4 separate regions of the Homo sapiens genome follow, and all the other regions are linked to region 1. Evidence: fine-mapped expression QTL. A gene starts in region 1. Each other region holds a variant in brackets. All regions are shown on one strand. Distances are between the middles of the regions.

The links.
Region 2: its variant is fine-mapped to the expression of NUB1 in whole blood (INTERVAL, PIP above 0.99).
Region 3: its variant is fine-mapped to the expression of NUB1 in whole blood (TOPMed, PIP above 0.99).
Region 4: its variant is fine-mapped to the expression of NUB1 in spleen (GTEx, PIP above 0.99).

What each region holds. Positions count from the first base shown.
Region 1 is chr7:151,338,455-151,346,557 of GRCh38, reverse strand. It overlaps NUB1 (negative regulator of ubiquitin like proteins 1), which reads right to left and starts at 4,746. Exons shown (of 15, transcript NM_001243351.2): 1 at 4,712-4,746; 2 at 1,092-1,210. The coding sequence starts at 1,208. RefSeq lists silencers at 4,477-4,656, 4,827-5,026 and enhancers at 4,624-5,125, 6,195-6,284, 6,415-6,474.
Region 2 is chr7:151,370,520-151,378,622 of GRCh38, reverse strand. It overlaps NUB1 (negative regulator of ubiquitin like proteins 1), which reads right to left. Exons shown (of 15, transcript NM_001243351.2): 12 at 4,380-4,526; 13 at 2,680-2,775; 14 at 1,812-1,989; 15 at 174-1,576. The coding sequence ends at 1,398. It also overlaps a transcript of WDR86 not described here. Among named protein-coding and RNA genes, the nearest start is that of NUB1, 33 kb to the right of the region's middle. The variant A/T (reference allele first, on the strand shown) is at 3,870.
Region 3 is chr7:151,383,413-151,391,515 of GRCh38, reverse strand. WDR86 (WD repeat domain 86) reads left to right here. Exons shown (of 6, transcript NM_198285.3): 4 at 6,293-6,428. Among named protein-coding and RNA genes, the nearest start is that of WDR86-AS1, 22 kb to the left of the region's middle. RefSeq lists an enhancer at 3,501-4,163. The variant T/C (reference allele first, on the strand shown) is at 3,812.
Region 4 is chr7:151,394,742-151,402,844 of GRCh38, reverse strand. WDR86 (WD repeat domain 86) reads left to right here. Exons shown (of 6, transcript NM_198285.3): 2 at 2,604-2,745; 3 at 6,649-7,069. Among named protein-coding and RNA genes, the nearest start is that of WDR86-AS1, 10 kb to the left of the region's middle. The variant C/T (reference allele first, on the strand shown) is at 4,800.

The DNA.
Region 1 (8,103 bases):
GTATTAGTCATCAGCTCAATCTCCCCTTCCCAGAGGTTGGAGGGGAGGGTGGAAAGTTTCAAGTGTCTAATCACGGCTTGGTACTTTTGGTGACCAGCCCCATCCTGAAGCTATCTAGGGGCAACCAAGCCTCATGAGCACAAAGGTTGCTCCTATCATGCTTACCACTTAGGAAATCCCAAGAGTTTTGGCTCTGCCAGGAACCAGGGACAAAGGTCAAATATTTTTCCTTTATGCCACACCTAGTTTCTAAACCAAGAGACTGTAACAATAAATTCAGAAGCAAGGTCAGAAGGTGGGTTGCAAAGAAAAAGTGAGGCCTGCCTGGAACAGAAGAAACAGAAGAACTAGGACCCTAATACAGTTTGTCACCTCCCAAGCACATCATTATGTCACAACACAGAGCAATTTAATGCCTCATGACAATCCTTAGTCCCTGATAAATGTTACATCATGTTCAGGATACTCTGAATGAGAGCAGAGAAGTACATGCTAGGAAATTCCAGTATGATAGATTTCTGGCAAAAATGAGTACTGTTTCTCTGCTTAGAAAAGCAAGCAGACTTCAGTTTCTAGAAACATCACTTACATACAATATCATTTCTGATGATGCCATGAAAAACTGAGATACAACTGTTAGAAAAAACCTATTTTGGAAAAATGAACACTGATAGTGAGAGCATCAAAAAAACTGGGGGAAAAAGGAGCAATTGTTTCACAGCAGATGATGATAGCAAGGAGGACCGAGAATGAGCCAAGACACTGTCACTTTGAACACACAATGCAATTACTTACTGGCACCAATACTGTTCCACTAATGGGTCAAAATGAGTTCCAGATAAATAATGTTATGTAATCCTGTGATGGTATTAAAAATATATGCCTGAAAAATTAGATAACATCCTCATGTGAATAAAATATTAATGAACAAAAATAAGGTTGTCAGTTCCTAGTAAAAAGTGGGTACCCGCTCACCACTAATGCTTTTGGTTATGCCAAAAGTTTATATGGTCATGCCTGACAATTCAGAATCTTATTTACCAAGGAGATTTATAATGCTGCTAATTATTGATGTCTTAAAAGAAAAATACCTTTAATGCCAAACCAACTTTTTTATTTTCATCTGTATATGGAGGTTTCCAAAGTTGAATCCTGTCTTCCCTTAAAAACTGGGTCAATTTTGCTTGAAGATATTTCTTTTGTGCCATCCCTGAAAGCAAAACAATACATTAATAAAACTCCACATCGCATTTTAAAATGTTAATAACTTACCTACATGTTAAGGTGCTTTGTTGGGTAAGCAAAGCTCCCTTCCTCTGTCATTAAATATAAATTACTATGGTTTAAATGAGCTCCAGACTTCTCTAAAAATATATATAGAAATATATGTTCAATTATATATATTACATATATAAAATATGTATTTCAAAGTTGCTAATATGTAGCAAGGATTATTACATGTTTCTATTTCTTAATCTGCTATTCTCTTATCTAAGAGAAAAGAGAAAATAAGAGAAAGATAAATCCCTCGAGTCGTGAACTTCTTTTTTTCTTTTTTGAGACGGAGTCTCGCTCTGTCGCCCAGGCTGGAGTGCAGTGGTGCGATCTCGGCTCACTGCAAGCTCCGCCCCCTGGGTTCAAGCAATTCCCCTGCATCAGCCTCCCTACTCACTGGGATTACAGGCATGCGCCACCACGCCCGGCTAATTTTCATATTTTTAGTAGAGACGGGGTTTCGCCATGTTGGCCAGGCTGGTCTCGAATTCCTGACCTCAAGTGATCCACCCACCTTGGTCTCAAAACGCTGGGATTACAGGCGTGAGCTTGTAAATTCTCTCATACTTTGGCTAGTTTAACATAAAACAAAAGGCCAACCATCCTGGTAGTTAAATATAAAGAAAAGCTTGCTTGAACTGTAAACTATCGATAATAAATATTTTCGGATGGGTGTGGTGGCTCAGGCCTGTAACCCCAGCACTTTGGGAGGCTGAGTTCAGGAGCTGAGGTCAGGAGTTCGAGACCAGCCTGGTCAACATGGTGAAGCCCTATCTCTACTAAAAAAAAAAAAATATATGAACAATTAGCCGGGCGTGGTGGCAGGTACCTGTAATCCCAGCTACTCGGGAGACTGAGGCAGGAGAATCGCTTGAATCCAGGAGGCAGAGGTTGTAGTGAGCCGAGATGGCACCACTGCACTCCAGCCTGGGCAACAGAGTGAGACTCCGTCTCAAAATAATAATAAATATATAAATATTTTCTATGTCAGAATTTTTTAAATTAAAAAGATTACAATACTAGGAAAATTTTGCATATTTTCTGATTAACAGCCTAACAGCACATCTACTTTTTTTTTTTTTTTTTTTTTTTTTTTTTTTTTGAGAGGGAGTCTCACTCTGTCGCCCAGGCTAGAGTGCAGTGGTACAATCTCGGCTCACTGCAAGCTCCGCCTCCCGGGTTCACGCCATTCTCCTGCCTCAGCCTCCCCAGTAGCTGGGACTACAGGCGCCCGCCACCACGCCCGGCTGATTTTTTGTATTTTTAGTAGAGATGGGGTTTCACCGTGTTGGCCAGGATGGTCTCAATCTCCTGACCTTGTGATCCGCCCGCCTCGGCCTCCCAAAGTGCTGGGATTACAGGCCTGAGCCACCGCGCCTGGCCCTACTATTCAAATCTAACACTGATCGGATCATTTTACAGCTGAGAAAATTAGGGCCCTGAGTTTGTACCATGACTCAGGCAAAGACACAAAATTAGGCAGCATCTTAACGAGCACAACTTCCACCCACAACACTGGACTCTGAACTTCCGTCATGGAGTCCCTTGCTGCTTGCCTGTTCCAGGTATGTAACTTCTCTCTCCCAGAGAAGTATGTACCGCGATGGAGCTGTCTACTCATCCCATACTAGCACAGCAATTCAAAGGTGAGTGAGGCGGCTGAGATGTAAGGCAGCTGGCAGGTGTAGCACAGCGCTTTAAGGTTTCCCAAATCAGACAAGCAATAAGTAAAGAAAAATGTTATTAGCCCCTGAATGATGAAGACAAGTTCTAGAGAGTGGAAAAAATATGAGTTAATATTACCAAGATAAATTTCTTTCTTCTATTGAGGGCCAGTATTCCACATCCCCCCAAACCCAATTCACACAACTTTGAAATCTTTGAAAACTTTGGTAGCTTGTGTATTTCATAAACAAATATTTTTTAAAAGAAAGTTCAAATCTATTTTATGTCAGTGCGGGGACAAGAATTAGGCTAATCAGGACAGGGAGGAGAAAAGAGAGGAAGGAATAACACAGCCAATGAGGCTGCTGTGTGCAACCTGGGTGGCCCATGGGAGAATCCTCCATTTTTCAAGCACTGACAAACGGCTTATCACAGCAAAGCATATTAGTACTTAGAGCGTTAGCTTTTCAAACACAAATAACTTTAAAAACTACTTTACATACTACTCATGAATCTTCAGAAATTCTGAATAAAATATCACAGCAACCCTACTGTCTCCCCACTGGGGGACAGTAATTTCACAGGCTGGTTACTGGAGCCAAGCAATTTGAAAGGCTGATGCGGTACTCAGAGATGCCATCCAAGGCCGGGCGCGGTGGCTCACACCTGTAATCCCAGCACTTGGGAGGCCGAGGCCAGTGGATCACCTGAGGTCAGGAGTTCAAGACCAGCCTGGTCAACATGGTGAAACCCCGTCTCTACTAAAAAAATAAACAAATAAAAAATTTTTAAAAAGATGCCATCCAAGCCACCACTTGACAGAAGGACGAAGGAGTGTTACAAACCCAGTGCGTGTCAGACACTCCAGGGAGCAAACAAGAGCTCCAGGGTTACACCGAATAAGATTTAATGTTAAAAAAAAATTAAACCACTGTCTTGAAACTTAAGGAACTTCAGTTATAGACAACAGAGTAAGTGGCGACATATTTTAAGTCAAGTTTAATAAGTCAGTTTTTAATTTTAACTGAAATGAGAACTGAAAAAGTTTCATGCATGCCATACAATGTTTCACATTGTAACTAAGAAAAGACGAAACTCATTAATATCACTCCGTGGTCCAAGCAGAAAGTGAAACGTTATAACGATCCTTTAAAAATTTCACTTTCACTTTTGTAATGAATCGATCATTGCTACATTTAGCCACACCTTTTCAAGTATACATTATATATAGTTGAAACACAACTATATCTAGTCAAGACACATTCATTTTTTCTTAGGAAAATGAAAGATTCTTGATTAAAAATAAAAGGGAAGGAGGTGAGAATGATAGAATCAGGTCGTCAAGGTTCGAGAAAATCAAGTGTCTTGTCATTAAATAGCAAAGAAAATCTGGCTTTGATTGCAAATAAATCCCAAATGGTATACTCGGAGTGTTACGATTCAAGTATAGCATTTGGCTAATTTTTTATAGACATATTTATTCCTTTCTCTCCCCAAACCGATACACTCAATATTTTCTTTTAAATACCCCACACCTCTGCCTAACTCAGGGCAAACCAAAGGGCCCCGAACGGCCAGCGCGTCCCGAAGCCCGGCCCACCGCTCCCGGCCCCGGCCCCGGCCCCGGCCCAGCTCCACGCATGGCTGCTCACCCCCGCCCCGCGGCCGCTCCACCCCTGGCCAGGAGAGGTGCCCAGTCGGACCGGGAACCGGGGCGCCAAGCAGTGCTGCTGAGGCTGGGGTCGAGGACACTCGGCCGCCGTGTCCTCACCTGCGCCACGCCACTCCCGCCGCGACCAGCAGAGTGCCCGGATGCGGCAGCGGCCGCCGTTTGTTTTCATTCCGGGTGAGGCCAGCCCCGCCCCCGCCGCCGCTGTCGCCTTCGCGCCGCCGCCGCCGCCGCCGCTTGGAAAGAGGGTTGTGGGCGGGGCCAAGGCGAAGCCAGCTGTGGGCGGGGATACGGTTGTGTGGGCGTGGTTACCGCGGGGCGGAGCCGCGACGGGGCGGAGCTAAGCGGAGGCGGGGCTGGGCGAGGATGTGGCCGTGTGGGGCGAGGACCTGGGAGTTGGTGTCCAACGCCACCCCAGGCTCAGTCTTCCAGGACTTCCCGCCCGGGCTCAGTTTGCCAGCCATCAAGAGGAAATGGATCCTGGCTTTGTTTCTCCAGAATCCTTGAAAGAGGCTGGGGGAAGGGTCGGGACCGTCCCAACCCGCATCTCATTCCTCAGCCTAGGCTGGACCCCTTCCCTAAACCAGCGGCTTTTCACCCCGCCCTCCACAAGCCCACCAGGGGCTTCCCTGGGGTGAAATTAGGCTGCTTCCCGGGAATTTCCTCCCCCATGCTGTCCACGGCCACTAGGGACCACAAGGCCTAGGGAGCTCTGCCTACTTCCAAGGTCCTATTCCCAAGGCTGTGCTCAACAGTGACGCTTCTATTTTATTATCAGTTATTGCTGTTAATCTCTTACTGTGCCTAATAAATTAAACTTTATCGTAGGTATGTACGTATGTATAGGAAAAATGAAGTGTGTGTATATATATAGTATATATATATGTGTGTGTATGTAAAATGGGGTGCAGTACTATCCGAGGTTTCAGGCATCCACTGTGGGTCTTGGGACACACCACCTGTGTGTGGACGAGAGGGGACTCCTGTAACCTTGCAGTGACCAATCCGTTTTTCGTTCCCTGTTGCTGCTTTCTTTAGCCCTTTTCTACCTATAAAGCCCACCTCCTCTGCCCAGCTCGTTGGAGCACCGTTTCTAAATTTTCAGAGAAGATGCCATCCTGATTCATGAATCAATAAAAACCAATAGATCTTTAATCTAAATTTGTGGTAATTTTGACTTCTGACAAAGGGATATTAATAACTGTATAACCGCACCAGACCAATCTGATTCGCCTTTTATATACCCAAGTTGTGAGTTGTTTTTCAGTTGCATGGACTCCCAGATGGAAGGTTTCGCACGTAACCTGAGGATGCCCAGGTGAACCAAGCATGCAACCAGGGGCGGAACCTGAGTGCTCAGATCAAAGCAGGGACTGAATTAAGAAATGGGCACTGCATGGTGAGATCCAGAATGCAATCAGATCAAGCCCTGGTGTCACCCCATGGCAGGGTCCAGTCAGATGAGCATCCCAGCATCACCTCATCGCAAAATCTAATCCGATCATGCGTCATTACCCTATGCTTATAAAACCCAACCCAGCCCCAAGCTCAAGGAGACAGAGCTGAGGGTTTCCTCATGTCTCCTTGACAGTCAACTCACAATAAAGCCTTTCTTTTCTCAAAAGCCCGTGCCATGGTGTTGGCTTCTAGCACATCAGGAAAAAGCCCGTTGATTGCTCAGTAGCAATTGCAGCAAGGTAGAAGGACAACAGAAACTGTTCTGACATTTTTTTCTGAGGGCTTTCTCTGAGATGAGTAACAAAGATAGTTTCACTTTTACATTTACGTAGTAGACCATCAGGAAATTGAATGTCCACGCTCAGGTGTGATGGAGCAGCTTGCAGTAGACCAAGGCTCCCACTAACAACAACTAGAAAAGCCAGAAAGCGAAGTCAGAAAACATCTGTTTGAAGGCAGTGAAAGCTGCTGAGGCAAGAATGGGGGGACTTGATATTCCAGAGAATGAGGAACCTTCAAGGGGTGAGCTAATGTCTGCAGTGGCTTGTATTGGTGTGTGAGGGCTTTTGCCAGTTCTGGATACAAGCATGAGGCTGAGAATTTAGACTTTGAGACCACAGAGGGCCACTGCTGGGGACACAAAACCAACACAGCGATGTAGGGGGAAATTCCAAGGACAATTGCTGAATTCAAGGCTTGTATGGGGCAAGAAACTGAAATGTAAATGGAAGGCCTCTGAAAGCAGAAGTTTTTGATAGACTTGCAAAACAAAGATTCGAGTCTGAGATCTGCTAGGGTGGTGGTGGAAGTGGGTTACTGCAGAGCCTACACCATGTTCCCAGTTGGAAACTGGAGGGCAACGGTAGCTTGAACCCTACCAGAACCTCAGCCCAGCCTTCACTCCATGCAGTCCCTGATTGGATTAAGGTTATTGGCCACTCCTGTCTTTGGTTTTGTGGAGGAAAGGGAAAAACCCTCCTGAGAGAATGATAACATTTGAAGCCTCTACAACTTTTTAGAAGCTATATTTGGCATCTCATTAAAAAGTTACTAGATAAAAAAAGAAAAAGACAATAGAAACAGACCCACAGATGAGTCAGATATTGGAGTTGCCTGATTAAAATAACTCTGATGAACATTTTCAAGAAAACAGAAAAAAAGATGAAAATTTTCACCTGAGTATTGAAATCTATAAAAATAAATCAAATGAAAACTCTAGAGGTGAAAAGTGTAATAAATGAGGCTGTGAACTCTGGATGTTAGACAAAACTAAAGACACGATTAGTGAACTGCAGGCACATCAATAGAAAATATCCAAACTGAAGCATAGAAGGAAAGAATGGAAAATACAGAAACAAGCATTAGAGACACATGGGACATGATGAAAAGTTCTACCAGGTATTCAGGTTTCTAGAAAAAGAGAGAAAGGGGCAGAAACAATATTTGAAAAGATAATAACCAAGAGTCCAAGTTTCGCAAAACTGATGAAAGACATCAAATTACAAATTCTGTAAGTTCTATGACTCCTAAGCAGGATAAATACAAAATCAGCCACACCCAGTGCATTCTAGTAGAACCATTGAAAACCAAGGAAAAAGATAAAATCTTAAAAGGTGCCAGGGCCAGGTACGGTGGCTCACGCTAGTAATCCCAGCACTTTGGGAGGCTGAGGCAGGTGGATCACCTGAGGTCAGGAGTTCGAGATGAGTTTGACGAATACGATGAAACCCCGTCTCTACTAAAAATACAAAACTTAGCTGGCTGTGGTGGAGGGCGCCTGTCATCCCAGCTACTTGGAAGGCCGAGGCAGGAGAATCGCTGGAACCTGGGAGATGCAGGTTGCAGTGAGCAAAGATTGCACCATTGCACTCCAGCCTGGGCAACAGATTGAGACTCCATCTCAAAAAAAAAAAAATTAATTTAATTTAATTAAACAAAAAAAAGGTGCCGGGGAAAAGATGCATTGCCTTTTAAGATTGTCAGCTGACTTCAGAAACAATAAATCCAGAAGACAATGGAATGGCATCTTTAATGTG
Region 2 (8,103 bases), 32 kb before region 1:
GGCATCTTTCACAGCAGATGCCCTCTGCTTCTGAGATCATCCTTCCATCATCTCCTCACAAAACTCAGTGGAAACAGACATCCTGCAATCAAAATGAAGAGCTAGTCACCCAGACACTTTCAACACCTACAGCTGGGGAGGCTGAGTAAATTAATGCAAAATTAGGGTGACAATTTTTGAATATATTTCCCACCTTTTATTTCCATCGGTATCATCCGTTTAAAAAGAATGACAAGAAGATTCCCATCAGTCCAAACTGGACCACCCACACTTTGAAAAAGTTGGAGCATTTCAGCCGGCTCCGCATGATCCATCCTGTCTTCAGTCAGTGCCTTCTGGAAGGGAGGGAAAGTCTTGGATGCACCTGGCACTCAATCCACTCGGCACCTGGCTGCTGCTGTGGTCCTGGGGCTGGAAGGAACTCCCACTGGGCACACATCTACAGAGGAGTGCGTGGCGCAGTGAGGACGGTTACTGCTGGAGCCGACACACAGCGAACTACATACTTTTAGAAAGAGCCTCTGTCACATGGCTAGAACAACAACAACAACAAAGAAAACCCACAAAAAACCTGGAGAAAATATATCTAAATCTCTGATAGGTCTCTTAGCTAGCAGTGAGTTCAGTATGACAGCACAGAGTCTAAAAATATTAATTAAAAATAAATTGCTTTGGTTAGCATTTAAACCTTTCCCATTCAATAGAAGATTTCTGTAATGAGGAATGCTGAATATATATAAAGCCTGACACTCAATCTTGAATTTCGGGGGCGTATTTTACTGAACTAAGAGCATAAAACACTGGCGTCCCAGGCTGAAGCCATTTGCTGCGACCTGGTGTGGCCCCCAAGGCCAGCGCCTCATCGTTATGCCCCACAGCACTTGGAAGGAAGACTTAAAGGACGATTTGAGGGGCGGGGAAAGGGTGGCACAGGAACCCATGTGGCACCCTGGCAGAGATGGCAGCGTGGGAAGCAGGAAGGTCAGGGCAGTGGGTGCAGGAGGCAGGCAAGCTGGGCAGATGGAGCCACAGCTGGAGAGGAAGCGGTCGGGACACCCTTCCCAGGACCCTGCCCTGGACACCTTCCCCAGGACCCCTGTTCTACAGGACCCCTGTTCCTTCCTGTTTCGGGGTAAAACACCAAGCTGGGGAAGGGGTTAGGGACGCAGACCTGGGAGGCAGATGGAACGGCCTGCGCCAGGCCAGAGGAAGCTTCTTCCCCGAGACCACGCATGAAGGCCCTGGGACCCCTCCTGGACTTGTCCCCTGCCCACCCCCTCCTACACCCAAAGAGGACTTGTAATTCAGATAAAAAGTAAGAACAGAAAGAGCTGCATTAGCCTTTTCATAATGATAGCATTTATAAGCAGAAAATTAGCGCTATTTCTGTTCATTATTTAGTTTTTCTTTGTTGCTGACTTCCTATTTTCTACATAGGATAGGTACTCTGCAATAATAATTTCTTCATCTTCCAGAGTTGAGTCAAGATAGTCTTCCTCATGCTCTGGAATGTCTTCCAGTATCTCATTGACGGCCTCTGTCTCCATGTCTTCGTCTGTTGAGGCACTAGAGGTTCCTACAATAAAATACCGCAGGAGTAAGTGAATTATGTGAGGATTGTCCTGGGGACACTGCACGACCACAGTCAACCTCAGACTGTGCCTCTTGCTGGCCACACTGTCCAGGTGGCCGGCCCGGTGACGTCAGGGGACGCCCCCTCAGTCTCCACATCTGCCGTGGCTTAGGGCCACATCTGTTGGCTTCTGAAGACACTTTGCTCTCAATGCGGCCCTCAAAGACCTCAGACCTACCTGCGGAGTCAGAAGGGGACGTGGCTGGCGGGGACAAAGAGTCTTCTGGCGACAGCGGCAGCTCGGGAGGCAGGCTTCCTCCGTTGTGAGCAAGGGTCTGGGCGGCCAGCTGGACGTTGCCTCTGAACACTCTCAGCGCAGCTTCGGCCACGAGTGCATCAAAACCCATGTACACCAACTAGGGGAGAGCGCAGGGGTCACAGCATCAGCCCCTGGCGCCTCTTCTGCCACCCCCGTCAGCCATACGAGTGGACAGCCGACTCTCATGTTTAAGAGCTCCCGGCGTGTGCACCATGGCCCTTTGTGCACAAGTCATGCTTCTGTGCAATGTGAGCGTAGAGCAACCTGGAAGGGGGCTTGGAAGACTCAAGTCGGGTGCGTCAGGGAGCAGCCATCTCAGGACAGGCAGTGACCTCGGGCTGAGAGCAGGGCGCCACACCAGCCTCACCACGAGCACCGCGAGGTCAGTGGCCACAGCATACAGGCGTGCTAACGCGTGTAGGGGCACAAATGTGGACAGAGCCGTCACTTGGGATACAAAGCTGGATGGGTTTCCCAGGTCACAGTGCCATCCTTTTAGGTCACAGGCAGAGAAATGAGGCTGATGCAAACAGTGGTGCATAGACAAAGGCAGCAAACCTAAAGAGAACTTCCTGACACTTCCCCAGTTTTCCTGCTTTCCAAGGAGGCCTCCCCTGCCCTCTGTTACTGCGTGGGTGGCCTCTGAGGTGGGCAGGTTACACCTGGAGCCTGGGAGCCAAGGTTTCAGCACGGACTCCCCCAGTCCTGCTGCCTGATTCACCCGGGTTACCCCAAGCAACCCCACCCGAGGCTGTCCAAGCTGAGGGCACAAAGGCCTGTCACTCACTCGGTCAATGTTTTCCTGGGAAGGACTTTCTTGACGGTTGTCGGTTTCAGGATTGGAATCATTTAACCACCACATCTGAGGATTGCTGAGCAGAATCTAAAACACACAGGAACACCCTTTACCCATCACTAAGAACTCTTCACACATTCAGACAGGCGCTGCACCCTGCCATGTGCTAGGCAGACCCCGCCGTCCTCTGCTGCTATGAGGCAGAGAAAGGGGCTCCCACTCAGGCTGGTGTTCACAGAAGGCTTCCAGCCAGAGACCAGGACAGCTGGGGTTTGAAGGAGGAGCAAGACTAGTCAGGGAAAAGATCCCTTCTGTTAGAGCAGGAAGGGATGGAGAGCAGGTGGAAGCAGCATCCAAGAAAACAGGTTTTGTCAGAGCTACAGACAGAAAGGTCTCAAGCAGCTCAGGGCTGCCTGATTGATCTTTGAAAGCGTCATGCCCTCTAGACTTAAAATGTCAGGCAGGTAGTAGGGTTATTTTGACCCTTGATTTCTTCATCACACAATACTTAATCTTCAAAGACCCTGTGGAGACTTTCCTTTCCAACACTCAGTACTTCCATTTTGACTGGAAGTATTTTTGTGCCACTCGTATAATTCACATCTATTTTGAGACCCATCAGTCCCTTCGAATATTCAGAATTTCCCACCTCTTAATATTTCTCCAACACACAAAAAAACGAACTAGATGATATTCAAATAAAAATTTAAAATTTAACGTATATGTTAAATATACATGTACATAGTTACAAAAGTACTGACTTGTGGAGCCTTCCGGGGAACAGGGCAGGGATAAGAGGCAAAGGCAGGGTGGACTCCCCGTGCCTGCTGCACCCACACCCGCCTCAGCAGGGCAAACGAGGACACCTGCCCTGCACCCCACCCCCTCCAACCCCATCTCTGTCCCCCCAGCCCCGCCCCCAGCACGTGCACAACCTAAGCCAGCTCCTACCACTCTGCTTCCTGCCCGCCGCGCTGCCCCAGCATCTGTCTGGACTGCTGCCTCCACACAGCCAGCCCCCTGCCTCCTGTGCACCCCCTCGGGACCCCTCACCACGTGTGCTCTGAGTTTGTCTCTCACTGACCTGCGGGGCCGAGAGGGCAGAGGGTGGTTCCATGCCAAGCTGCTGAGACGCAGCGCAGCACCTGCCCTACTGAGGATTCGATATGCTTCTCCAACAC[A/T]GGGAAGGAAGTGGCCCAGGTAAAGTCACTGCTGTCTGGATCCCAACCTGCTGTCACTCCTGAGGGGTTCTTTGAAAAGCTCTCCCTTTGCCAACATGTACGATGGACTAAATAAATAAAACTAGATACTTACATTTAAAATTTTAATGCCAAACAATTATACTACAAGTTGAATTCCCATTCTCTTTTTTCTGCCGTGGAAACTGCCTGTTTCACTAAACTCTGCTGCACACAGAAACCCTACACAAAGTCCTGGCCTGTGGACTGTGCTGGTGTGGACAGGCACCACGTTTTGGAGCCAGGCCTGGGCCAAGCACTGAGCATGGGGCCTCACGTGGCCTCACGCAGCCTGTGTCTGGGCTGGAGCCCAGGAGAAACCTGCCCTTCAGATCCGGATGACGGGGCAGCCCATAGGAGTGAGCCCGGGAGGATGCTGGAGAGCCATGGAGGGAGCTCTGGGCAGGACCCACTGCTCAGGGACAAGGCCAGAGGCCCCGAGGGAGCTGCTACCTTCAGGGCCTCATCCAAGTTCCCGCTGGCTGCGTGGAGTACCTGCTGGGCCGCGTGCGTGGAGTAGCCCATCCCTTTCAGAAACCTGATGTTCTCGAGGCGGCGTCTTTTCTTCTCTTTTTCCTCCTTCCTTATTTGGGCCAGTTCCTTTAGGAAAACAGCAAAGTCCCATCCCAAGTTAGGGACTGAGATTTCACAGCCTCTCAGTCTGCGCTCTGCAGGATTCTCCGCATTTCCAGGCAAAGCCAAAAAACCAAAGCAAAGCACAGGGGGCCCTCTTTCTACCTCTCCTCACCCAGCCAAATGGCAGAGGTGCCACAGAGGCAGAGGGGTGGTGGAAGTGCTGCTTCTGAGGCAGGCAGTGGAAGTGAGATGCCCGTGGGGCAGGAAGGAGGTGCCTCGCCAGCCCCGCCATCCACCATCCGGCATCAGGATGGGCTGCTCGCCAACCCAGCACTCCCACTGCAGAGGTCGCGGGTGTGAGGTGCATGGATTCTCTTCTAGGAACCAGGTAGGAACCGGGTAGGAGAGCTTCTGCACGCGGTGGGAAGGCCTTCCAGCCTTCGATGAATCGCCCAGGGATTCAAGTTAAAATGTGATGTGGAATCAGGGGCTCCTGGGCAATGCCAAAGCTGGTGACCCGCCCCCCACAGCCTGGGGAGCAAGGACTCCAGGGCCTTCTGAGGCCTGTCATTCCATTCGGAACCCACAGAGTGCCCAGAGACAAAGGTCATCTAACCTCTTGGTTCTCAACCCTGTTTCTCAGAGTTGCCTGCTATTGCTGCAGGAGCGCAGGACGGCTGCAGAGGGTTCTAGTCTCTTCACCTCTCCCACCCAGGGCCAATCAGGAGAGTTCCCAATTTATTTTGTAAACTAGTATCCCCATAAAAATGTCATTTAAAAAGGGGATTTTGCTGCTTAAAAACAACAACAACAAAGCAAGTTTGAAAACCAGGAATTTAATCCAACCTCATTATTTTCCCAACAAGGAGACAGAAAGCTTTCAACAAAGTTAAGTGACTTGCTACATTCTCCCAGGGAGACCAGCCCCACCATCAGCAGCAGCGAGGACGGGGGAGAAAACAGACTCCTTCCTTCCAGAGACCTGATCCTGCCTCCTGCCCAGCCCAGGCAACAGGCGCCTCCCTGCATTTTCCCCACAGCAGGAAAGCGGCCTCATCTCTTAGGAAAACAAAAGCATCATCATTGTGGAACCAGACTCCACAGGCCCCACAGTAGGAGCAGGCAGAACAGAGTGGCTGCTGGAAACATCTCCAGGGATGAAGACATCTGTAGACTCATGGCCTGTCTCTATCACAGGAGAACCTCCTGGTGTGGCCCTGGAGTGCCCACAGCGCCAGCTCCCTTTGCTTCCCCTTCAGCTGCACCAGGCCTGTCTCATGCCCCCATTACGTGCTCTACCTCTCAGTGGCCAGTCTCCCCCAGCTCCAGCCCCGCTGCACAGGGCAGCAGGCTCCGTCATTCCAGTCACCTACCTGAAAGCCCGCAGCAGCTCCTGACCACCTCCCCACACTGAGGCACCAGCTCCTTATTCTGCTACTCAGGGCCCCCACTCCCTGGCCCCAACAATGCTTCGAAACTGACCTTATCCTGCCACACCACCCCAACCACACATGCCAGCAGGAGTCTTTCATACCACTCACATTTGCACTTTTATTTACACATACTCCATGTAAAATGCCTTTACTGGCCCCATCCTCTGCTTTCAATACAGTTTCTTCCATTTATATTCCAAAAGGCTAAGAAGCGCACCTAACATCCAAGCACAGAGAAGGACGCTGCCAGCCAGCGGACCTGGGCATTACCTAACACAGACCTCACACCAACTGGGAGCTTCGAAGAATACTTCCTTTCATTACAAATGTCTTAGTCTGTTTCCTTTTAATCATGTAAACACATGTGAGAACATTATTTTCTGAAATTTCTCTTTATACTAAGATGAGTTAGAAAGATAAAGTAGATCAAATCAATGACAGTGAGTACTGCACTGAAGTGGCTACAGTTAAGTAGAATCAGATCTCAAGAGAGAGGCACTGTATGGTCACAACAAGCTGGGATGGCCTCTTAGGAAGGCTACGTCTCACGGCCTGGCCATGCCGAAGCATGATCTGTGAGCTCCGTTTCTACAGCTGTTGCTTTTCTCAGATGAGAAACTGGTCTGTACTCAGGGCCATATTGCACAAAAAATATAAACTTTTAATAATTATGTATTAAAGGCTGGGTGCAGTGGCTCACACCTGTAATCCCAGCACCTTGGGAGGCCAAGGTGGGAGGACTGCTTGAACCCAGGAGTTTTGAGACTGGCCTGGGCAACATGGTGAGACCCCATTTCTACAAAAAAATAAAAATCAGCCGAGAGCTCTTGGCAGGAGGATCATTGGAGCCCGGGAGATCAAGGTTGCAGTGAGCCATAATCACGCCACTGCCCTCCAGCCTGGACAAGAGAGCAAGGCTCTGTCTCAAACAAAAACATGAACGAATTGTTTTACATTCAGCTCAGTCAGATGCTCATACCTAGAACGTTGGAACTCCGAGGGCAGCAGATTTCTCTTGCTCATCTAAAGCTCCGATAGGAGCTCACTTTCTGTGGGACATTGTTTTTGTCTTTCCAGCACCCATTCTACCCCTCCCTGAGGTGTGGGAGGCTGCTCCAGCTCCCCAGGTGGCCCCTGAATGGGCTAAGGTGGCAACCCTCTATCTCTTGCCACAGGCCTGAGCCAGTCTTGGCGTTCCTCCAGCCTCAGTGACAGGTTCAAGGCTGCCCAATCACAAGAAGCTCAGGATTTTCCCTGAGGATTCTGGGACACAGATTATGGCCCTTGTTGTGACTGGATGACACTGATGACATGGGGTGGGGGGTGGGGGTAAAAGACAGACCTCAGGTCCTCAGTGACATCAGTAAGCCACTGAATGAATCACCTAACCCTGAGACCTATCCTACTTCTGGACTTTTTACAAGTAAACGGCCAATAAATCCCACCACATCCCTTGTTTTGATGTTTAGGCCATTTTGGGTTTTTTGTTGTTGTTGTTGCTTTCAGCCAAAGGCATCGTAACTAACAACATCTGTTGGGTGGAAGAGGGAGAAGGATCAACTGCACTATATACACTGGTTTTTTTATTTGCATTTTCTCCAAGGGCTTTTAACTTCAGAAATGTACAAGTGATATGACTCCACTATACTTTAAAAGACCACCTCTGAGCAACAGCTCTTCCCATGTGTAAGATGAGAAGTACCTGTCCTGTGGCCTCTCGGCTGGTCACAGGCAGAAGTGAATGACATGAGTGTGACAATGTTTTATGAACTATAGTCTTATACAGTGATGAGAACTGTTTTCCAAATGATCTCATTTTAAAACACTAGCTTTCCAGATGCTAATAAAATCTTACTTCATTCTCAGTAAACTATCGCAAGAACAAAAAACCAAACACCGCATATTCTCACTCACAGGTGGGAATTGAACAATGAGAACACGTGGACACAGGAAGGGGGACATCACACTCTGGGGACTGTTGTGGGGTGGGGGGAGGGGGGAGGGATAGCTTTAGGAGATATACCTAATGCTAAATGACGAGTTAATGGGTGCAGCGCACCAGCATGGCACATGTATACATATGTAACTAACCTGCACATTGTGCACATGTACCCTAAAACTTAAAAGTATAATAATAATAAAATAAAATTAAAGGAAAAAATAAATAA
Region 3 (8,103 bases), 45 kb before region 1:
CAGCTGCGTGTGGGGGGCCATGCGACCCACAGAAGGGACCATCTTGCCTTTCTCTTCCCTTGTATATGATTTCTTTCACCCGACACCACTCAGGAAATTGGAGTTTTGCAGGGGTTAGAAGGCTGCTGCCTTACAAGCCAGGTTTGATTAGGGCTATGGGACATTTCTCACACTGTCCTAAACGCAGAGGGGGCTTCCTGACAGAGATTCAGGGGCAGGGAGCCAGGGCAGGAGCCTCATGAGCAGATCCGGGAAGCAGGACTTCTGGGTATGGCGTCCCCTAGCCCTCGCTGGGCCCCGCCCCCGCAGGTGGCTATGTCAGTTCTCCCTCCTGCCTTCTGTGGCTTCTCTGACCGAGGGCCATCGCCGCCACAGCCTTCATCAGATGGGCTGGAAGTGCCGCTCACGATCTGCCTTTCTAGAAGGGCCTGATTGGCCCTCTCGGGTCCAGGAAGCACAGGAGGGGGACCCACAGGATCAGCTGAGGCCTCCCTTTAAACCATTTTCAGCATTTACTCAGGGCGTGAAGCACGTTCAGTGTTGTGCAAGCATCATACCATGATTTCCAGACTTTTCCATCAGCCCAAATCAGAACTCTGTCCCCATTAAACACTGACTCCCCGCTGCTCTTCCATGCCCCGGGCACCCGCCCTTCTGCTTTGTGTCTCTGAATTTGATGACTCTGGGTCCTCACATGAGTGGAGTCGTGCAGGATCTGTCCTTTCCTGTCTGGCTTATTTCATGAGCATAAGATCTTCAGGGTTCGTCTGTGTTGTGGTGTGTGATGAGATTCCCTCCTTTTTCCGTGACTGATAAATATTCCCTGGTATGTGGATACCACATTGCGCTTATCCGTCACCTGTTGATAGACACACGGGTTGCTTTCACCTTTCAGCTGTTGTGAACGGGTGGACGGGATCTGGGTGCATCCTGCCTTCAGTTCTCGGGTATATGCCTGCCAGTGGGACTGCGGATGACTTGGTAATTCTCTGTTCAGCTTTTTGAGGAACTGCCAAAGTGAAATGATTCTTAAGGCGAGTGTAGAGGGAAAGGGATGGGAGGTGGGCGCCGTACCATCCCCTCTGCCCACAGCGTCAGGACGCTGTGCAACTTCCGGAGGCTTCCTGACTGTGGGGGTTGGGGGGACTCCTTTTTCACAATCTGCCAAGTGGGGACACACGATGGCTGCCCCTGGCGTGGCCAGATGGGGTCCTGATGTGGGGGGTGTGCAGTGAGCTCTGGGCTTGGTCTGTTTTCACGGGGAGAGCTCTGTCGTTGAGGGCTGAACCAGGGACTTTTCATCTCCTCCCCTCCAGCTCCTCCCCTGCTCCGCAGCCCTGGCCCTGCGAGTGCTCCGTCTCCCCGAGCTCTGACTGTCCCTTGGTTCGTGGCACCAGGGCTGGCCATTACACCCCACGCTCTCTTGCATTTGGATCCTTTTGGGGCCCCTGCCTCATGGCCTGCCTGGGGCCCTCACTCTGCCTCAGTGCTCTGCTGGGCTGGAGATTGTGCATTCAGCCCCTGGCTCACCGGCACCCCCATCCACAAACTGCTCTCAGGAACATGGCACCCACACACAGGACTGTGTGGCTTCTCCACCCCAACCCAGAAACCCTGTGAGGCAGGCGGCACCATTGCTATCTAAGATTGAAGCAGAGACCTGCTTGTTGCTTTTCTCTGCTCTCGGCATGCAGTCGGGGTCACTGACCCGTGGTCTATGACACCTCATCTCCTTCCCCTTCCTCGAAATGAGAGAGGGCCTCATGCTCACTTCCAGGCGTCCTTCTCCTATGCGTACAGGCCTGGTGGGTGCACCTGAGACCAGGAAGCAAGCTCTTCAAAAGGACTTCACACAGCCCCTGCCCTGTGCAGGGCGGAGCGGGCAGACTCCTTCCCAGGTGCCCTTAAGAGTCCTGGGCCCCCACAGTGGCTTTGCGAGCCCCATTGTGTCGCCTCTGAAATCGTTTTGCCGAAGAAGCGTGTGTGCTTGCAAGTCAAGAGCCAAGGGAGAGAGTGGCTGAGGTTTCCTGGTGGGCCAAGTGTGGGGCGTCTGCTGGGACCCTGAGTGAGCCGCCCGGCGATGGTGCGTTTGAGCTGTGGTGTCTGCACCACTCACATCACACAGGTCAGGCTTCTTTGATTTATGGAGATAAGCCCGTGGGCAGCCTTTCCAGAGGCTGGGGAGGAAAAGAGGAGACCGTGCAGTTTCGCAGAGTCCTGGTCCATTGCTGCTCCTGTAACAAAATACCTTAGACTGGAGGGCCGGGCACGGTGGCTCACGCCTGTTATCCCAGCACTTTGGGAGGCTGAGGTGGACGGATCACTTGAGGCCAGGGTTCCCAGACCAGCCTAGGCAACATGGAGAAACCTCATCTCAAACAAAAAAAAAAAAAAAAAGGAAAGAAAAGAAAAAAAGGTGCAGAATACCTTTGACTGGGTAATTTATAAATAATAGAAATGTATTTCTCACTGTTCCAGAGGCTGGGAAATCCAAGGTCTAGGCGCCAGCACGTTCTGTGTCTGGTGGCTGCTGCTCTTGCCACGTCCTTCGTCTTGGATGAAGGGACAAACAGGCTCCCTTAAGCCCTTTTATAAAAGGGAACTCATCTCATTTATGAGGCGGGCCCTCATAACCACTTTACTTCCTAATGCTATCACAGTGGGGGTTAAGTTCCAGCATGAATTTGGGGGGTTCCGACACTCAGACCATAGCTTCATATACCCCGCCTCCGACCGTCAGCCTGGGGACCAGGTGGCCACAAAGCATCCTCCCTGCTTCCCTGAAGCCTGCAGCCTGCTCCAAGTTGGCCAAAAGCAGAGGTGAGGTCCTGAGAAACCACCGTGCCCAGAGGGGCCTCTGCCTCCCTCGCCTTTTACAGGACTGCATGCAGGGCTGAGCCACCGATCTCAGGGGTCCCAGAAGCCAGGTGGGGACAGAGCCAGGAGCACACAGGCCTCCTTTGGAGAGGGTCGGGCCAGAGATGGTGTGAGGACCTGCTTCTAAGCGACAAACCCAAGGTCAAAAAGCCAGGGGGCACCCTGTCTGTGGTGGCCCTGCGCTGCAGGGCAGCCCTCTCCCCTGCTCTTTGAGGGGTCGCCCAGGTTCTGGGCTTGACCTGGGGTCCTTGTGAAGGAGGAGAGATAGAGTCTCTGCCCTGTCCCTTCATGGTTTTACAGAGATGTTTTAAACATTTTAGTTATAAAACATTTCAAATGTAAATTGTAAAAAATAACTAAAACAGACACCTATGCACCCAGTTTTGAAATCAGATAGCAACATTGTGATTTTAAAGAAACGAAGCATTTCAAATCCAGCCAGAGAAAAGAAAGACCTACAGGATCTGGGAGCCCGAGGTGGTGGGGACCACAGCAAGGATGTCGTGGGGCAGTCTCTGGCTGCAAAAGCCCTGTCGTACCAGTTCATGAGTCTCACCCAACCCTGAGGAGCCGGCGGGCAGAGATTGCACCTGCGTTTTGGGGATGGGCGGGGGTTACCATGTTCAGGCCCTGGGCTGCGTGTGGCGCACAGCAGTGCATCAGCCCTTGTGGCCTCGTTCTTAGCAGGAGGTCCTTGTTTCTCACGTTGCACATGAGACAGTGGAAGCTTGGAGAAGATGAGTAACTTGGCCACGTCTCACATCTGCTGAGGGGTGGAGGCAGGATTTGAACCCAAGACTGTGCATCTGTAAGCCCCGTGCCTGTGACCACCACAGCTGTCACCAGGCAGGTGGTGCGTCCCCCGACACTCTTGCTTGGGAGGAGTATCTTGGAGGGTCTGCTGCTCTGGAGCCTGCCAGGCCCTCTGCAGCCT[T/C]CTCCCACCCCTGCGGGGCTCCCTTGGAGCCCGGGGAGGTGGAGGCCCGCATCTGTGCCCTCAGCGGCGGAGCCCCGGGCCGGTGCCTCTCCTGCTTCTGCTTGGTTGGATCTCATCGCTGGGAGACTCCTCAGAGCCGCCGTGGCTGCGAGGAGCCCTCAGGATCATCCTGCCTTCCCCCTTGGCTCAGGCCTCCCTGGGCCACCCCGCTCTCCCTGTCCTGTCAGGAAACCAGCTAGAGGGAACAGCAAGGCCTCCACAGGCTGAGGACCCTGGGGCTGGGAGCGCCCCCTCGGCCTGTGTGGCTCTGGCTCATGTTCGGCAGGGTGCTACTGGGAGGGCTAAGCACAGTGCTCACAGGCCCTGTGTGGTGAGGGCCGGCTGCCAGGGAACAGGAGGGGCTTCCCTTTGTCCTCTCCTGCCCTGGTCACCCAGCAAGCCTCCTGCCCTGGTCACCCAGGAAGCCTCCTTGGTGCAGGGGCTGAGCAGCACAGAGGTGTGGGGCTGCAAAGCTGGCCAGTCCTTGGAGGTCTCAGTCTCAAACATTCCACCCTTGCCCACTCCTCTTATTAGAGCCTGAGAGGCTCTGTGACTGTCTGGGACGCAAGCACAGGGAGCCTGGCTGGCTCTGGAGCTGACCATGTGTTGGGGAGATGGCCAGGAAACGCTGCGCTGGTGGTGGTCAGCCCAGCCTCCGGGACACAGACACAGTGCCCTGGGGGCGGTGCGAAGAAGGATCCTGGGCTTCCACTTGCCGATGAAGGAAAAGGGAGGATCACAGTACAAGGGCTTTCTGGGCAGGGAGGACTTGTAGGAAACCTGGGAGGAAGGCACGTGCCCAGAGGTCCTGGGGCAGCAGTGTGGACACAGGTGTGTGGAGTGGAAACCAGGATATAGGGCCAGGGAAGCTGGGCCCTGCAGGGCCTCCGAGCCTGAGGCAGGAGGGGTGGTCTTTCTCAGGAAGCAGAGGGGCTGTTGAAGACTGTAAGCAGCTGACTGTGTGCCCGGCAGGCTCAGGAAGGTCCATTTGTCCTTCCTGCTGGTGCCCGCATTACTGGCAGGAACTGTGCTCCTGGGTGGTGCAGATGGCTGAGGTCTGAGTGCAGGAATGTTCTGGAACCCTGCCAAAGCTGACACGGGCAGGTAGGCAGTATCCCTGTCCTTGGGGAGGGGACCATCCAGTTAGGGAGGCTGCCTGGGCTGGGGCCCACCGTAACCCCAGCAGGACTTCAGGGCAGGGCCTGAGAGAGGGCAGGTGACTGTCCACAGGAAGCACCTGCAGCCTCTGCCTCCCAGAGGCCACATTGTGCTCCTCGTGGTTCCACTGCCTTCTCTGGGCACAGTGATTGGCCCAAGGCCAGTTAACTCCTTTGACCTGGGCTGTGGCCCGGGTCGTGGAAGCTCTGTCCTCTGGGATTTGAACAGGGAGATAATATGGGGAACCGGCAGTGGAAAGTGGCCCAGAGCGTGGTCGTGAGGGGAAGGTTAGGAGGGACGTGTTCGGGATGCCAGTGGCCAGCGTGAACTGACTGCCTGCCGGTGGGCCCACTGCCTGCCGACCACAGGAGAAATGCCCTGTGTGCCTGACCCGCTTCTGACTCCTGGTTCCTGGGCCCTAGCAGTAGTGGCAGGAGGCCTCTCTGGGGCATGAAGCCTGCGCCTGTCTCCTGTGCCATCGCGCCAGGTCACTGCAGCTGTGGAGCCCGCCTGCCCGCCCTGGCCTTCTCGTCCGTGACTGCTGACCAGAGGTGCTGGCTGGGAGTGCTCTTGGCTGGGTGGTGTTTAGTCTAGGGGAATTTACAGAATTATTTTAATAGTCTCCGCACTTCCCTGGGGCCGCTACTCCCGTCCATCTTGGCGAGGGCCTCTTCCCTTGTCTCCTGGGCCCTCTCCGTACCTCCTGCGAGACAGCAGCATCACATGGCTGGGTGAGACTGTCTCCCGGGCCCTCTTCTCACTGTGAGCCCCATGAGCAGGGGGAGCAGTGACCCCGTGACAGTCCCCGGCTGTCAGCTCCAGTCTTGGCAGAAGTCTGCCTCACACCCTCGCTCAGGGCTTTCTCTGTCCTGTCTGAAGCAAAAGCCCCATGTGAAAGCCCTTCTCTGGAAGCCCTCTCCTCAGCCAGCAGGAGCGAGCAGTTAAGTGCCTGTACCCCACACACACCCTCGAGGAAGGGGCTGTCCACATCCTAATCCTCAGGGGAAGCAGCTGAGGGGCAGAGAGCCAGGGACTGGCCCAGGGCAGTGTGGGGCTGGGCGGCCAGCCCTGTTGGAGCACTGGCTGCCCCATGGGGCAGGAGCAGCCGCCTGCTTTTGGGTGCTGAAGTGGGCAGTCTGGTGGGGCCGGTGGCGGGGCCATTCGAGGCTCACCCATGGTTTCACCACTGAGACCTGCACATGCCCCTTCCCCCCTTATAGAGGGAGAGGTCTGGGGGGCTTCAGAGCTGCCCCAGCTGCCGACCTTCCCTGCTCCTCCTCGCAGCTGGTGAACCGACTCGTGTACTCTGGCAGCGCGGACAGGACCGTCAAGTGCTGGCTGGCAGACACAGGGGAGTGTGTGCGCACGTTCACGGCCCACAGACGCAACGTGAGCGCCCTCAAGTACCACGCGGGCACCTGTAAGTGACTTGGCCCTGCACGACCTGTGCCACCCCAGCCTGGCTTCTCCTCTCTGCTTCTTTACTTCCTATGGGATTTTCCCTCATTGAGCCTTGGCTGCCAATCATCAGCGTCCAATGGCAGTGCTCGTTCCTTCTCCACACACCCGTGCTTCCAGCTGTTTTGCAAAGAAGGTGCAAATAAGGGTTTGGTGGCTCCTCCCAACCTTTCTCCAGGACAGCCTGGGAGACTGGACTGCTGGGAGGGTCTAGGGTCAAAAGCATGTCCCAAAGGGTGTATCCTAATTCTCCAAGTGAGACAGTGACTGCCCCTTAATCCTGCCAGCCTCGAGGGCCACATGGCTTTGGCCTCACTTGGCCTTAGGATTTGTCTGCAGAGAAGAGAAAATCCAGGTAGCTGTGGTTCCAATGAGGTGGTGGTTTATTTTCTCTCAGGTAGAAGAATTTCAGAGGCTGGTGGTCTCGGCTGGAATGGGTGGCTCCACAAAGTCATCAGGCACCCAGCTTTCTTCTGTCACTCTTCTTCGTCATCCTTAGCACAGACCTTCTATCTTTAAAGAAGCCTCATGATTCAAGATAGCTGCTACAGTGCCAGCCATCGTGTCATGTTTTAGGCAGGCAGAGAGAGAGGATGAAGGGCGAAAGGACGCGTCTTCTAGCTGAGTTGGTCCTTTAAGATCTTTCCTGGAAGCTTCATCCAAGGGCTTCTACATACCTCTCTGTGACCATTCTGTCTGCAAGAGATAGAGAATCATAAAGTCTTTTATCTGAGGAATTTGCTGCCCAGATGGAATCAGGGTTATTTTGGAAAGAAAGAAGGGCAGAATCGCTTGTTGGGCAGGCAACCTGCTGTCTGTCCTACAGGTCTCAACTTGTCACACTCTCGGGCCATTTGGCTCTGCCTCTGGGAGGGAGGAGACTGGGTTGGGGAAGAGTCACAGTGGAATATTCAAGTTGACCTCACAGCAAAGGTGTTGGATGAAGACAGAATGTAGATATCTGAAAATAGATCCTGACATGCCCTCAGGATTCAGGTGTCTGACACAGAAAAATTATTTTTCGTTTGTTCCTGTGTCCAAGGCTGGAAGTGTGGTTACGGCTCTGTTCCCAAGTCTGGGTCCTCTAATTGAACACGAGGAAGGTTCCACTCTCAAAGGCTCTGGCCGGCGGCCGCCTAGAACACCTCCCCGTGCAGCCGGGGCATGGAGCCCGCAGGGAAAGCGAAGCCTGCAGCTCACTGTTGCCCAGCTCGGTTCTTGGTCTTGGCCAGCAAGGCTATGGGATGATCAGACTTTGTTTTTGATCCTCTTCCCACCCGCGGGGAGCTCAGCAGCCACACTGGGTTTTCCAGGCCATGTCCATTTGTCTGAGTTTGTGGGGGGAAGGCAGAAAGGGGCTGAAAAGAGACCCAGAAATGAAACTTCCCCTCTGGGGCCATTCACTCTGTAGTTTTAACAAAAAGGCTGGAACAGGCTGGGCACCGTGGCTCATGCCTGTAATCCCAGCACTTTGGGAAGCCAAGGCGGGAGGATCTCTTGAGCTCAGTAGTTCAAGACCAGCCTGAGCAACATAGCAAGACCCTGTCTCTACAAACATTTTTTTTTTTTTTTTTTTGAGACGGAGTCTTGCTCTGTGGCCCAGGCTGGAGTGAAATGGCGCAGTCTAGGCTCACTGC
Region 4 (8,103 bases), 56 kb before region 1:
AATGCCTGAGGCATAAACATTGATCTGGCAGCCAGGGTGATAGTCAAGCTATCTAACTGCACCCATGAGATAGAGTCCCAACCAGCTGGTGGGGTAGCTCAGGTGCTGAGACCCCAGACACCCTGGCATGGCCCTCCACTCTTGGCCCTCCATTCTGGCCACATCCCGGCCTCATCAGTCATCTCTACCGATCACTCAGACTCTGGCCTGGAGGTGCCCCATGGAGCCAGTCCCTGCACGCCTGCTTTCCTAGCCGCTGTTCTCCCTACGGGCACCGAGTCACCCTCTTCCTGGTCTCCAGTGCTCAGGCTTCTCTCCCGAGCCCCAGCCAGCCGCTGCCAGTGGGGTGCCGAGCCCTGCTGACCACATGCTGCCCTTGACTGTCTTCCCTTCTGGGCCTGGAGCTCCCTTGGAGGGCAAGGCTGTGTTTCATTGTCTCTGTGTCTATGTTAGTGTCCTGGGGCTGCTGTGACAAAGGAGGATGCTTGGTGCCTGGAAACAAGTGAAGTTGATTCTTCACAGTGCTGGAACCCAGAGGGCTGAAATGAGCGTCCCTGGGATGAAAGCAGGGTGTCAGCAGGGCCACATCTAAACCCTGCAGGGAACGGTCGGTTCCTGGCCTCTTCCAGCCCTAGTGGCTGCTGGCATTCCTGCGCTCGTGGCCACATCCATCTCTGCCTTCACCTTCACGGCCTCCTCTTCCGAGTATATCACATCTCCCTGGCCTCTCTCTTGTAAGGACATTTGTGGAGATATATATATATATATATATATTTTTTTTTTTTTTTTTTTTTTTTGAGGCAGAGTTTTGCTCTGTCACCCAGGCTGGAGTGCAGTGGTGCAACCTCAGCTCACTGCAGCCTCCGCCTTCCGGGTTCAAGCAGTTCTCTGCCTCAGCCTCCCGAGTAGCTGGGATTACAGGCGCCCACCACCACGCCCGGCTAATTTTTTGTATTTTTAGTAGAGACGGGGTTTCACCATCTTAGCCAGGCTGATCTTGAACTCCTGACCTTGTGATCCACCCGCCTCGGCCTCCCAAAGTGCTGGAATTACAGGCGTGAGCCACCGCGCCTGGCCACTTGCGGTTGTATTTAGGACCCCCCGGATAATCTAGGATAATCTCCCCAGTCAAAGTCTTTACCTCGTCACATCCACAAAGACCCCTTTCCAAGTAAGGTCACATTGACAGGTTCCAGGGATTAGGACCTGCTGTCTTGGGGCCGTCATTCTGCCTACCACAGTATCTCTCCCCAGTGTAAGGAAAATAGCGAACATGTGCCATTCCCTCTGCGGCTGCCTCTGTCCTCAGTCTGCGCTACATCCCGTGAGGCAGGCATTGTCCCCATCCCAGGTGAGGAAATGTGGAATGCAAAAGCTGAAAGGTTTGAAAAAGACTAAAAGGAGATGATAAAGAAATGAGGAGGGAAGGAGAGGAGGGAGGAAGGCAAGAGTGGAAGCTGAGGAAACAGAGGGTTTAGGGTGCAGGCGAGTGCCCCTGGATTGCTCCTGCTGTTGATGGCTGCTGTGAAACCTCAGTTCTTGTCTTCTTAGTTTAACAGAATTGAAACAGGAGACACACAGCAAAGGAGATGCAGCATAGAGCAATGTATTGCACAGGAGGAAGAATACCCTGAAAGTTAGGTGCAGAATAGGCAGGACGCCCCAAGAGGGGAGTCAGGGTAGGCTGCCTGTGAGGATGAGAGAGCAAAGACCGGCTGGAGGGAGGATCCCTTTTTAGGAGTCTTACCTGATTATTCATGAGCAGGTGGGCAAGGGGGTTGCTGGGAAGCATGTTCTGGGTGCTCATGCACAGTGGCTGTGCATCCCTGTTCATACGTCACATGTCTCACTGGCATCTTAAATCTCCATCCAGGGGTGTGTTTTTTACTATTGTAATGAGCAAAGGGTCACTGTGAGGACCGGTAAAAATCAAAGTGCACGTGCTCTCTACAGGGGAAAGTCCCTACTGAAGATAGCTTTGCTTGAATGAGCTTGCCTGCAGTGCGAATGCTGGGGCTTATTGTGTTGACGGCGCAGTCGCCATGGTTGCTGCGTCCTGAGGACATGGTTACTTCCCTGACTATCTGTCGTGCCTCACTGGTACCCCGTGCTTTCTGAGAATCACTCAGACTGAAGTCATTCTTTAAGAAGGATGAGTTGAGGGCTGGGCGCAGTGGCTCACGCCTGTAATTCCAGCACTTTGGGAGGCCAAGGCAGGCAGATCACTTGAGGTCAGGAGTTCGAGACCAGCCTGACTAACATGGCGAAACCCCATCTCTACTAAAAATACAAAGAATTAGCCAGGTATAGTGGTATGCGCCTGTAATCTCAGCTACTCAGGAGGCTGAGGCAGGAGAATCACTTGAACCCGGGAGGCAGAGGTTGCAGTGAGCCCAGATCGCGCCACTGTACTCCAGCCTTGTGACAGAGTGAGACTCTGTCTCAAAAAAACAAAACAAAACAAAACTAATGCTAATTGACTCCAGCTTGTCTCAAACACTCCCTACATCCTGCTTTCTTCCCTTTTCAAACATTGTTCCCAGAAGAAAAGCAGGAGCTGGCATCCCCAGTACGCTCACATCTCCCCTGTCCCTCATCTGCAGGACATGAAAGCTATGTGACCTTCTGCCAGCTGGAGGATGAGGCTGCCTTCACATGCAGCGCCGACTGCACCATCAGGAGGTGGGACGTGCTGACCGGGCAGTGTCTGCAGGTGTACCGAGGACACACGTCCATCGTGAACAGGTCAGCCTGGCTGGGGGCTTGGGCTGAGTCTCACCATACATAGGCTTCTGGTGGGGCTGAGGGGTCAGAGATATGGGCCCCTGCACGTGAGGGCCCTTGGCTCTCTGGGGAAGCAAAAACGTGGACAGCTGGGAGGTGGTCAGTAGCACCCAGCGACGTGGACCCAGGACAGGCAGCGAGCTCAGTGCCTGCGGCTGCATGTGGGGCAGGGAGGCACTGCCCATCCACTGAACAGAGCCTGATGCTTCCCCCTTGGGGGCACAGTGGCTCCCCGCTGGGTGCAGGGAAAAGCACCAGAGCCTACAGCTCGTAGGGATGGGGACAAATTCCATAGGAAATGGCTTAATTGAGACCCGATGGTGGACCAAAGGTTTGCAGGAGGAGGAGTGTGGGGGATTGTTCCGAAGACGGAGTTGAGGATATTTTTAAGCCTCTCCTTTCTTTGTAGCTGTGGAAAATATCCCAGCCCCTCCTTCTCAAGAAGGTTGGAATTGTTCCTTTCTCAATGAATTTGGGTCTGAGCTGAGCAATGGAAATTCCTTTGCTGATCAGATCAGTTGGACACTGTTGGAGTCACTTGTGGTGGTCACCTCGGACTCCCGAGGGAGGCCTCCTGGCGCCCCTGGGCCTGGCAGCTGCACTGGAGGAGGGGCGCTGCCTGGAGGGTGACCCAAGTAAAGACAGGGCTGGCGCAGGCTGGCACGAGGGGGTCCTGAAGGTGGGGCTGGGGGCGCAGACCAGACAGGATGAACCCCACCAGAGGAATGCTGTTGGTTGAGCTCTGACAGGAACCCCCAGTCAGTGGACCAGCGCATGGGGGGACAGGAAAGGCAGTGAGACCCATCAGCCCAGCTCGCTGGAGTCGCAGGTGGCTGCAGCCAGGAATAATAATCGATAGTCGATGGACGGGGAGCTGGGTGACACCCTGAGGAGGAGGCTGAAGGGATGCGGGGACTTTTTAGAGTGAATGGGGGGTATATGCAGACACAAGGTAGGGTGGCCGTCTGGCCCCGGCCTTCCTCAGCTGAAGCAGGTGAGGCCCTGAGACCTGCCCAGGCAGCCCACAAGGTGGTAAAGAAGGGGCTAGAGTGAGAACTCAGGGCTCACAGCTCCACTGGCCTCTTCCCAGCACTCTGACTTCCCTGAGAAAGAAGTTTGCCATGAAAGAAGAGAGTAGGGCTGGGGGAGCGCCCTCCTGTGAGTCAGGCAGAGGCTGCAATGGGCTCAGCGGGGAGAAGGCCTGCCTGCAGTGACCAGTGGGCCCTCAGCTGCCAAACCCACAACTGTCAGATGCTTCTCAAAAGCAAAACTGGAACATTAAAGGTAGAAATCATGCTCGGCCAGATTTACTCTCACATGTGCACACACAACTTACACATACACATGTGCGCACACACACAACATACATATACACCATACACACAACTTACACATATACACGTGCATACACAACATACATACACACTCATACACAAACTTACACATACACACGTGCGCACACATACATATACACATACACCATACAAACAACTTACACATATACACGTGCATACACAACATACATACACACTCATACACAAACTTACACATACACACGTGCGCACACATATACACATACACACCTTACACATACACATGTGCACACACATACACTCATACACAACTTACACATGTGCACACACGCACAACATACATATACACCCATACACACAACTTACACATACACATGTGCACACATACACAACATACATATGCACTCATACACAACTTACACATGCACATGCAACTTACACACATACACACAACATACATATGCACCCATACACACAACTTACACACACATATGCACACACAACACACACATGCACACACATAGACACACAACTTACACAAGCAACAAAACATACACATATACACACAAAGTACATGCAGGCACACATTGTGCACACAACACACATGCACATATACACATATGCACACATGTTCACATGTGCTCACAACATATACAAACACACACACTATTTTGGATCGGTCACAGCTCCAAACCCATAGCT[C/T]TGTGTAGATATTTGCATGATTAAGTAACTGTCCTCATAAATCAGGAACTCACTTCCTCCCGAGTTTTCAGAGCCAGGTCAGGCCTGTGAGCTTTGGGGTCACCGATCGTTCAGTGGCCTGGCATCCCTGCCTTCTCACACCAGGCAGGACTCAGCCACCCCCTCCATACCCCAAGGCCTCCCGCTACACCCTTCCTCCCGCTATGCCCTTCCTCCCGCTACACCCTCTTCCTCCCGCTATGCCCTTCCTCCCGCTATGCCCTTCCTCCTGCTACGCCCTCTTCCTCCCGCTACACCCTCTTCCTCCCGCTACACCCTCTTCCTCCCGCTATGCCCTTCCTCCCACTACACCCTCTTCCTCCCGCTATGCTCTTCCTCCCGCTATGCCCTTCCTCCCGCTATGCCCTTCCTCCCGCTACACCCTCTTCCTCCCGCACTTTGCAGCAGCAGCATCAAGGCATCATTTCCTTTAAAAATACACGTAATCCCAGCTACTCGGGAGGCTGAGGCAGGAGAATCGCTTGAACCTGGGAGGCAGAGGTTGCAGTGAGCCGAGATCGTGCCACTGCGCTCCAGCCTGGGCGACAGAGTGAGACTCCGTCTCAAAATAAATAAATAAATACATGTTTTGTGACAATCATCCTATCTGGGTCTCAGGGAAGAAGCCAGTTGGAAAGGGATAGTTGGCATTTGAGTGGAGTCATGTGTCGTTGAGCTGCTTGCGGGAAGTGAGGAATGCTGTTGGGATCCTGTGGAGGCGGGAGGCAGCAGGCTTGTCCCGAGTGGGTCTCCTGTCCATGCCAGGCTGGCCAGCAAGCCCTTCGCGGGAGGACGGGAGGAGCAGCAGGGCCGGCCGTGGTCCTGATTCAGGAGGGTCCCACCCCGGCAGGGATGCACCTTGTTACAGTGCAGCCACGGCCGCACCCCTTGGCGGTCTCCTCTCCTGAGGTGCAGGGCTTCTTACCAAGGGTGTGTGCTCAGACCTTCTGAGGTTCTGTGCAAAGCTCTGCACTAAAGACAAATGTGTGTTTTTCTGGGGAGTTCTTGGCTTCCATCAAAATGAAAATAAGAGTCGTGAATACAATGTGGGGGCCTTGGTCTCCCATGTTGGTCAGTTGCACTGAATGGATGGACTCTCTTGGCTACCCAACCCCCAGTTCCCAGCCATGTGGCTAGAACCCTGTTGAGGCTGTGACCTCAGTCTGCATGGGGATTGCTGTGAGAGCTGGCAGCAGAGGCCCCCACTGGCTGTAGCGTGACCCCTGGCTGTGCCTCCCACAAGCACCCCTGGGTGCACTATGGGAGTTCCCAGTGCTCTCCAGCTTCTCAGGGCCCTCATCTGAAGTGCCCTGCCCAGCCACTTGAGCCGGCCCTGTTCCCAGGGTGACCAGCGTGTCCCACTCTGCCCTGGACTTTCTCAGTCTTAGGCTGAAAACCCTAAATCCCCAGAAGCTTTTCAACTCCGGGCAAGCTGAGAGGGCCGTGCTCCCCTACCTTCCCCCCCACCCGCTTCCCGCTGCTCCCCTACCTCCTCCCCCATCCCCTTCCCGCTGCTCCTGCAGAGCTGCTGTGGGGATGCTGGAGGGATCCCAGCGGAGCATCTAAGCTTGGTCCCTGCTACAGGTACATGCCCAGGGGCAGGCAAGGAAGGGTGGGCATGAGGGGAGTCAGGGTAGCTTCCTGGAGGTGGGGGCGATTTGAGCTGGACCTTGGAAGACGAGTGTGGCAAGCTGGGCAGACACAGGGAGAGGTTATTTTAGCTGCAGTGCCGAGCATGGCATGTCGGGAGGCTGTGTGGATTCTGGAACCCGTGCCTTCTGATCCCTGACCCCTTCCCTCTTGCCCCCAGGATCCTGGTTGCCAACAACCAGCTCTTCAGCAGCTCCTATGACCGGACAGCTCGGGTCTGGAGTGTGGACAAGGGGCAGATGTCCCGGGAGTTCCGGGGCCACCGCAACTGCGTGCTGACCCTAGCCTACTCTGCCCCGTGGGACCTCCCCAGCACTCCCTGCGCGGAGGAGGCCGCGGCCGGGGGGCTTCTGGTGACCGGCAGCACAGATGGCACAGCCAAGGTGTGGCAGGTGGCCAGCGGCTGCTGCCACCAGACGCTGCGGGGCCACACGGGTGCAGTGCTGTGCCTAGTGCTAGACACGCCCGGCCACACGGCCTTCACAGGCAGCACCGACGCCACCATCCGTGCCTGGGACATCCTGAGTGGGGAGCAGCTGCGGGTGTTCCGGGAGCACCGGGGCTCCGTCATCTGTCTGGAGGTGAGACTGTCCTGGTCCCCGCCCAGCAGCCAGGGGAGCCCAGGTCACCCCCTGCACTGCCGCCCTGCCCTGGGTATCTGTGATTCGGCTGCATAACAAAGCGCTGCAGATGGGGGCCTGGCAAGCGCCACGGAGGCCTTGCGGTCCTGGGGCTGGGAATCCAAGATAAGGGGTCCGCAGTACTGGTTTCCGTGAGGCCTCTCCTTAACCTGCAGATGCTGCCTTCTCCCTGTCCTCGTGTGTGTGTGTGTGTGTGTGTGTGTGTGTGTGTGTGTGTGTGTCCTAATCTCTTCTTAGAAGGACACCAGTCATACTGGATTAGGGCCCCCCTATGAACTCATTTTAACTCAACTGCCTCTTTTAAAGACCCTCTTTCAAAAAGGCCACATTCATAGGTACAGGGGTGGGGTAGGGCTGCGACACGTGAATCTGGGGTGGGCATGATGCAGCCCATAACACTCAGCTTCTGAATCTGCATGCTGGGCCAGAGCTGGGGCGGAGCCTGCCTGCAGGGCGCCTGGAGCGGGTGTTGACTGTTTTCCTGGTTTGTCTTTGTGCTGTCAGGGTGAACGCCGGCAGCCTCCTGGGCTCCGTCCTCATGGGTTGGGGACTGGGAAGTGGCCCATCATGCTATAAGCTGACAACCAGGATAGAGGAAGCACATAGCGCTGTAATGGTGTGGCCGTGTGGGACGTGGGGTTGCTGCCCCGTCTCCGTTGCCTCCCCTGGACAAGCCACCCAGCCTCTGTGGGCCTCAGTTTCCTCACATGTACAGGGAGGATTACGCCCCTTCTTAATTCCTAAATCCAAAAAGTTCCAAAAATTGAGAAGTTTTTTCTTAAGCTTGGCACGAAAACGCCTGGTGGCAGAGTCTGGCCTGAAGAGACATGTGACTGTGTGTGCTTCGAACATCCCGGTGCCTGGGGGTTCTCACGCCTTTCCTGCAGATGCAGGAGTGTGTCTGTAAGCCAGAAAATCCTCGAACGCATTGTCCCAAGGTTTTAGATTAGGGATTATGGTATGAAGTTGCCCCG